2 linked regions of the Homo sapiens genome follow. The protein of the gene in region 2 purifies or fractionates together with the protein of the main gene of each other region. This does not show direct contact. Each region holds a gene or a part of one and is shown on either strand. Other genes may lie near its edges.

Region 1 (3,594 bases), on a different chromosome or scaffold from region 2:
GCCCCCACGAAGCGAAGCAGCAGGGGGTAGGCAGGCAGGAAGGATGGCAAGCACACAGCCATGCATGAAGCACCCTGATGGGCCACGCTGGGCACCTGCCCAGGCCGCTGCTCTCCTGCAATCCACCCTCTGCCTGCTAACGTTCAACTCCTATTCACCTTCGAGATTCACCTCAGACACCACCTCCACTGCAGACCTTCTCTGCTCTAGACAGTCTACAAAAGCCCCACACCATCCTACCCTGTTCTCCTCCAGCACATGGCTCATCCTCCCGCATGGCTCCAAGCTCCCCAGGGGCACAGTCTGGGTCATCTTGAACCCCCTACTAAGGATGTGGGAAAGGGCAGCCCTCATCGACCACCTCTGTGGAGCTCTGGGTAGTGCCAAGCGCCTCCCCAGCATTCGCTCATGCATGCCTCTCGTTATTTACCACATTTCATCAAATCTAAGATGCGGCAGGTGGCGCCATCTTGGTCCTAGCGGAAGGTGTCCACGGGTTTTCCACGACTCCATCTCGAATACCAGCTGGCTGACAGCGACTATGAGACGCCACTGACTGAAAGACGCACCTCAGTTTCAGAGAAGTCACAAGGTGGAAATGCGTGCCTCTTAGAATCAATGAAGTAGGGTGCGTCCACTTCACAGTTGAGAAAACAGCTTCAGAGGGGCTACAAGTTGCTTGAGGTCCCACAGCTAGGAAGCTGGCATGCGAACTCAGCTGACCGAGCCCTGGCTCCTAACCACCTCTCCACACAGCCTCCTCTCAGCCCCTGGGCCTGGCTGGACAATCAACTCTGGCGACCACCCCTATTGGTCACAATCATCCATGGCTCCGACAGCGCCTGCCACGACGGGAGGCTGGGTGTTGTCTGGACAGCGCCCCCTTCAGGCAGGCCCGAGTGCCAGTTCCTTCGCAAGCAGGCTCCCTTCTCGGGAATCAGGCTGGAAGCAACAGGCATGGGTCAGCAAAGCTGCTCCCACGCGCTAAAAAACCCTGTCCATCCAGGCAAGACCCAGGAACACGCGGCTGAAAAAACACACGGGGAGGCCTCCAAATCAGTGAGAAAAAGACCAACACCTTTTGCCACTACCTCCCACAAGCCCTGTTTGGACCAAGGAAATGTGGACAGGGACAGGGACAGTCTATCTGCTCCCGTCCTGGACCGTGGCCTGTACAAACAAGTGGTCAGAAAGGGCACTCAGCGGATAGAGCGGAGACATCAGGAGAGTCCTTAGGGGTCCGATCTTTGCTGTTTCTCACCAAAAGGAAAGAGAGGTGCACACAAAGACATCCACTGCAGTTTTATTTAAGAGGTGCAAATCTGGAGGCCATGTCCAGAAGTCCAGCGATGGCGGGGACAGACTGCAGAGTGCCCCTCTGCAGAGTGTCCCCAGGGCACAAGGGGAGTGAGGAGGGGGCTGAGCTGGTGCAGAGGCTTCTCCGACAATGTGGGGGGCTGCCTGCAGCTGCAGCCTGGGGACATGGTGCATCCCCACCCATCCAGGGCCTGCTCTTCACTGGCTCCTGCTCTACCTGCCCACTCACTCACTCACTGATCAACAGATGCTGGCAGAAATGGCTGTGTCCCTGGCCTTGAGAAGCAGATGCAGCTCCCTGTCCCCAGAGGCCTACAGTCATATGGTACCTCCACAGGCTCGCTTGGCTGCGCTACAGGAGGCAGCGTCAGGGAAGCTTTCTCACCGTGATATAACCTCCCTGGCTTTTATGTAATAAAATGCAACCAGAAATCCTTAGTCAAGAGTCTGACAGAAGCAAAATGGGCAATCATCCTGGCACCTAACCCCATCGCTCCACGCTCAGGAATTCTCTTCCACATCTCACAGGTGTGACCTCAGTGTGCTGCTCTGCGTTGGGCCTTTTGCCTTAACTTGAATGCTTCTCCCCTCTTCCTGCCCAGTCTTCCTGTCCCTGCTGGGAGGGCTGCTGAGCATTCTGCACCACAGCCGACTCTCCCTCTCATCCTCCGATGTTGCAGTTGCAGCCCGTGTTTTGGCAGTGGTGAGCATTTCACCTCCCCTTCCCGGTATCTTATCCCTCTAAGAGAAAATCCCCACCAGTGGGGTTACCAGGTCAAGGGGTGGGAATGTTTTTCTGGCTCTTAAAACATCGGGTTGAACTGTTTTCCCAAGACCTCACACCAAGTTCTGCGTCTCCAGGAGCCCGGGCAGGCGGCGTCCTTTCCTGCGTGTCCCGAGCCTCGGCTCCACTCGGGACGGCACACCCTCCCCTCTTCCGTGGGGGCCGGGCCAGCAGACACGCTCATGAGACCTGCTTCACTCACTCATCTCCGAGGATGCCTGGGTTCAGAGGTGAAAGCCCTTTGAAAACGCTAAGATAGTGGGCAGACGAATGGGCCTGGTCTTCCATGGGTCCACAGGGACAGAGATGGCCCATCTTGGCCCCACAAACATGGTGTTCTGGGGCTGGGTCACCCCACAGAGATGAGGCAGTGATAAAAGCAAGCTTTTCCCTGCACAGGGATTCGGGCTCCAGACAGTAAAGTCACAAGCCCGGCTTCCTGTAACCAGGAGCCAACCTGCTTGTGCTGCCGGTGAGGGAATGGGTCCCATGAGCCAACAGCCCCGAGCCTGTTCAGAGGGCAGCCTCAGGGCCTGTCAGACACCCTGCGGTCTCCTAGAGGAGCTGGATGTGGGCATCAGAGCAATTGGGAGTCCTCACCAAGCAAGCAACAGCTGGCATCAGGCCAGGCACCCCTGCCATGTGTCCCCCCGCGAGGACCAGCCTGCAGAAGGCACTGCCCTCCCTGTGTCTGACCCTGTTGGAAGCAGGTGCTGGCACCTCTCCCCCAACCCCAGCCCAGCCAGGGGGCCCAGGCAGGGCTGTGTGGCTCCACTAGAAGCAAGATACATACACGATTACCTTGGTTAGAGAGGATGGGCTGGGGCAGGGAGGCAGATGCGGGAGCCACAGTGGGAGGGGAGCTGCTGGGTCTGATGCAGGGGGCAGCTGAGAGCCGGGAGTCTTCACCACCCTGAGGACGAGTGCTTGAGTCAGCCCGGGAGAGAAGAGGAAGCACAGAGCTCCCCAAGGCCAGGGGTGTGAGGAGGGAGCGCAACGGTTCCCACCAACTGGGTGGTAAAGATGGTCTCATCATATCCTTAGAGCAGGAACTACCACTGTCCCCACCCCACAGAGAACAGAGAGGCCGCGACTTGCCCGAGGTCATGCAGCCAGGGAGGGGCGCAGCTGGGACTCGGCAGCCCTGAGCAGTCCCATGGCCCAAGCCCCCCAAACTGGCTCCTATCCCGGCTGGCTCTGCACCACTGCCCTCCCACCTGCCACACAAACCCACCTTCTTCTCTGGGTTGCTCAGTTTGGACTTGACCTCCTTGGCTTTCTGAATTGCTTTCAGCACTTCCACAGTGTCCAGCTCCTTCTCTGTGGTCACTGTGTCATCCAGACAGACCTAGAGCATCCAGAAAGTGGCTATCAGCATGGGGACTGGTGATGGCTATCAGCATGGGGACTGGTGATGGCTATCAGCATGGGGACTGGTGAGCATGGCAGGAGGATGGTAGGGCTCTGCTGAGGAGGAGGCGTGAGCACCTGCT
Region 2 (3,594 bases):
CACCCGGCTAATTTTGTATTTTTAGTAGAGAGAGGGTTTCACCATGTTGGTCAGGCTGGTCTCGAGCTCCTGACCTCAGGTGATCTGCCCGCCTTGGCCTCCCAAAGTGCTGGGATTACAAGCGTGAGCCACCATGCCTGGCCTTATCTTTTTTCTTGAAGCCTACAGATAATTTTGTGGAAAGGAGCCAGTGGTCTGCTTTTTGACTGTGGAGATGTTTGTTTGTAGTCTAAAATGGAATACTTAGAAGTAGGTAATCTTGTGTGGCTAGTGTTGTTTGACCTGAATTGTGTCAAGACATTTTCCACAGTTCTCACACATGTAGACTCTGTGAAGTGTTAGTATTCATTTCAAAGCGAAGTTAGTGGTTGGCCACTGAACAACTTGTTACACAAAGTATTCTAAAATGGGAAATGCCATAGTATTGAAGGTTGTGGTGAGGTAGAAGTCTGTGTCTCTGAGCTGAATAAAGACAGAGCTTTTTTAGTCTGTCCTTTTGGCTGGGAAGCTAGGACACTATTTTTAGGTAAGGCTGTAGTTTTTGGGAGTAAGTACCTTTCTATTAGCTGGTAAACTTGATTATTGCATTTGTTAACAAGAAGTTTTATTTTCTAATGCCATAGATATTAAAATGCATTGTCTTAAAGTTGGTATATATTTATAGACTGTCCAGTTTTCACTGGAAGAGGAGTGATGCCAAAACAACAGGAAAAGTCATTTTTACTTGCAAAGGGCCTCGTGTAATTAAAAAATCTACAGCATATTCATGAAAGGCTAAGAATAGTGCAGAGGGACCTACAAGTAAGTAGCCCAGATCTTACAGATGCATGTGTTCTCTATTTAAGCAGTAGGCTTGGCATTAATATTGAATGTAGATTAGTCTATAATTGTCTGTCAGAGACCCTAAGATCCAAATACAGGCCCCATACAAGAAATAAGGACCTTTGCCTGTTGTTTCAAATGTATAGAAGATTTCGGGCCAGGTGTATCAACAACAGTTATCCAAGAGATGGGGAGGAACTACTTAAAAAATTATAAGCAAATTTTTAGGTTTAATTTTCATAAACTTAGGTGAATATACATGCAGATGTAATTGGATTTCTAAGTAATGTTTTGAAATGTTTTCTAGAAGAAAAGTGATACAAGTGGAGAGTATGCCATACTATCTTACCATTCATTTCAGTTGATGAGTGCAGTCAGGGTTACTTCTGTAGCATTGGCTAGAAGCAGCATATAACATGATGGTTTATTGCTTTGAGGGTGGCTGGGATAATAGTTTTCAGTAATCTTGAATCTGTTAGAAGTGAATATTCCTCTTTTTAAAAGACCACTGTAGATGTAACAGGAAGAATTTTATTTATATATACATGTAATAACTATTTTGGTCAACTTTTAATTATTCAAAAGAAATGGAAAGTTTTTCAACTAATACCAACAGTCATACCAACTTGTTTACTTTTGTGAATTGTACTGGGTCAGTTTCTCCAAGTAAGAGCAGGAAGTTGTTTGGTAAAGCAGAGTGTATACATATATCTTGTCTTTGAACAAAAAAGAACTTGATTCATCGTCAGGTTCTTCAAAGAATGCATGGCATCTTTGTTGACTGAACTATTCTGAAGTGTGAATGTTTGTGATTTTTGTCATTTCTGTGCTATATTTTAGGTGTTCTTGTCACATCTGAATTTGCCTTTTTGCTTCCTTCTGCAGAAATTATCTTTGTTGTGATGAAAATGTCCTATAATGCGAGCTTCCTGTCAGTAGGCAACGTGTTTAACTAATACAGTTTTAAAAAATTATTTACTTTTATGCAAAACTCCTGTATGCTTATGGTAAACAAATTTGAGCAGTACTTATGTAAAGTAAAAAAGGTTAAAAAAAAGAAAAGCCTCTGTTCTTCTTCTGTCTCTAGTCCTGCTCCCTTGAGCTGAATCTGGCAAACAGCTGGGTGTCATTTAGCTTTTGGAAGACCTCTCTATTCCTGAGATATTCTGGCAGTGTGGAAGTAGAGTGAGAAGTCAGAAAAGGCATGGTCATTGAACCAGAGTTTGGATGTTGTGCAGGGACTATTCTGTTCTTATTTTCTGTGATAAGTAATAATGATAAACTACCATCAGCTTAAGATAACTGTAATTTGAATTGTGAAACATGAAAACAGTTAGTTCTTTAGTCAGGTTGGTAAAGTTTTGATTTGTTGATCTTTTAAAAGAAATATGCATGAATTGAATTCATGTAATGTTAGGGCTGGTGGGGGTTAATGGTAGTAATGAATTACCATCTGTTGAATTTTAGGATAAGCTGCACAGTATATTTACTATAGGCTTTTTATAACTCATCATCTCCTTTAATTCTCATAGCAACTCACGAGATAGTTATTTCCATTTTACAAAGGAAGAAATTCAGGCTTAAGTGTGACTCAACTAATGTAACGTCACGAGACCAGTAAAGTAGTGGAGCTGGTGTTCTTCCTGGAAAGCCTGTGCTCTTCTTTCTCTAGCTAGTCTAAGTGACTTATTTTCCAGATAAGGAAATATAGGCCTGAAGAAATTAAATGAGTTGCTCAAGGTCACACAGCTCAGTAGTAGCAACATTAAACCAAGCTTGTTTTTAATCTTTGGAGGCTTATCTCAAGACTCTTGGTCTAGTGCTGGTCATGCTACATTTTATTGAACTAGTGTGGACCAAAAGACCATATGCTGGGAATATTGGATACAAATGCTTTGGAACTGATATCTTGGTGAATGGTGTTTTCTACTATGTATTAAAAAAACTTTCTTCTTTGTCTTTCAGAAATTATAAAGAGCTCTGATGGGCTATTTGGGTGATACCCAGTGCAGTGAACTGCAGGTGAGTAAGGTTTAGAACTTTATTTAGAAAACAAGAATTTTATAATGCCTGAAAGAATAAGGTGGGACAAGGGTGAAGTGATACAGGGCTGTAGTGAAACAGTGGTAACCTGAAGGCACAGATCCTAACGGAATCGGTTACTTCTGGAACAGACTGAATGATGAACAAGCTCCGAAGAGACTGCCTGCTGCCTTGTCAGGTTAGTGTGTGAAATGAGTGAGGGTAGGTTAATCTTCCACTTCTGTTCAGATGAGTAACTGCATAGGGGCTCAGCTTATCTGCGTGCTATTGGAACTTGAGAGGTCCTTCAGTTTTTGTGTCAGCATTCTTGAGTGGCGATTACTTTGTGCTCCAGTGAACTTGGTTAAGTATTGAATTGTTTTTCCTGTTATCTGCTATTTACATAGTGTCATGAATGACTGTATATATCTGCAGTTTTGAGGATCTAAATATGGAGAACATATCAATAGAAACAAAAGGTTGAACTTTTTTTCCTAGTGGTTGTACTACCTCTATTGATACTATTAGTCTTTCAGATTATTTACTTTTTGCTGAAATACCTGTTAATTAAAAACAGTTTAGTCTTGAGTATTTATTATTTCACAGTAATTAATCTTCTTGGTCAGCTATGGTGTCTTCGTCTTTCATTATTACACTTAGAAAATGGTAATACTACAGAAATAAATTAGAAGGCTTTTAATACTTTCCTTATGAGGCATCAGAGTTAAAATTATTATTATTTTTTTGAGA

The links. The genes of interacting proteins can lie anywhere in the genome.
Region 1: the proteins of HELZ (region 2) and NISCH purify together in Homo sapiens (affinity purification with mass spectrometry, with the first as the bait; one large-scale study listed by BioGRID). This does not show direct contact.

The regions. Positions count from the first base shown.
Region 1 is NC_000003.12:52,479,604-52,483,197, reverse strand, and holds part of NISCH (nischarin), read right to left. Parts: intron 3,450-3,594; coding exon 3,336-3,449; intron 3,015-3,335; coding exon 2,903-3,014; coding exon of another isoform or gene 2,679-2,902; exon of another isoform or gene 2,320-2,678; coding exon of another isoform or gene 2,300-2,319; exon of another isoform or gene 441-2,299; coding exon of another isoform or gene 431-440; intron 1-430. UniProt on the Homo sapiens protein: Acts either as the functional imidazoline-1 receptor (I1R) candidate or as a membrane-associated mediator of the I1R signaling.
Region 2 is NC_000017.11:67,238,683-67,242,276, reverse strand, and holds part of HELZ (probable helicase with zinc finger domain), read left to right. Parts: intron 1-2,787; 5' UTR 2,788-2,844; intron 2,845-3,594. UniProt on the Homo sapiens protein: May act as a helicase that plays a role in RNA metabolism in multiple tissues and organs within the developing embryo.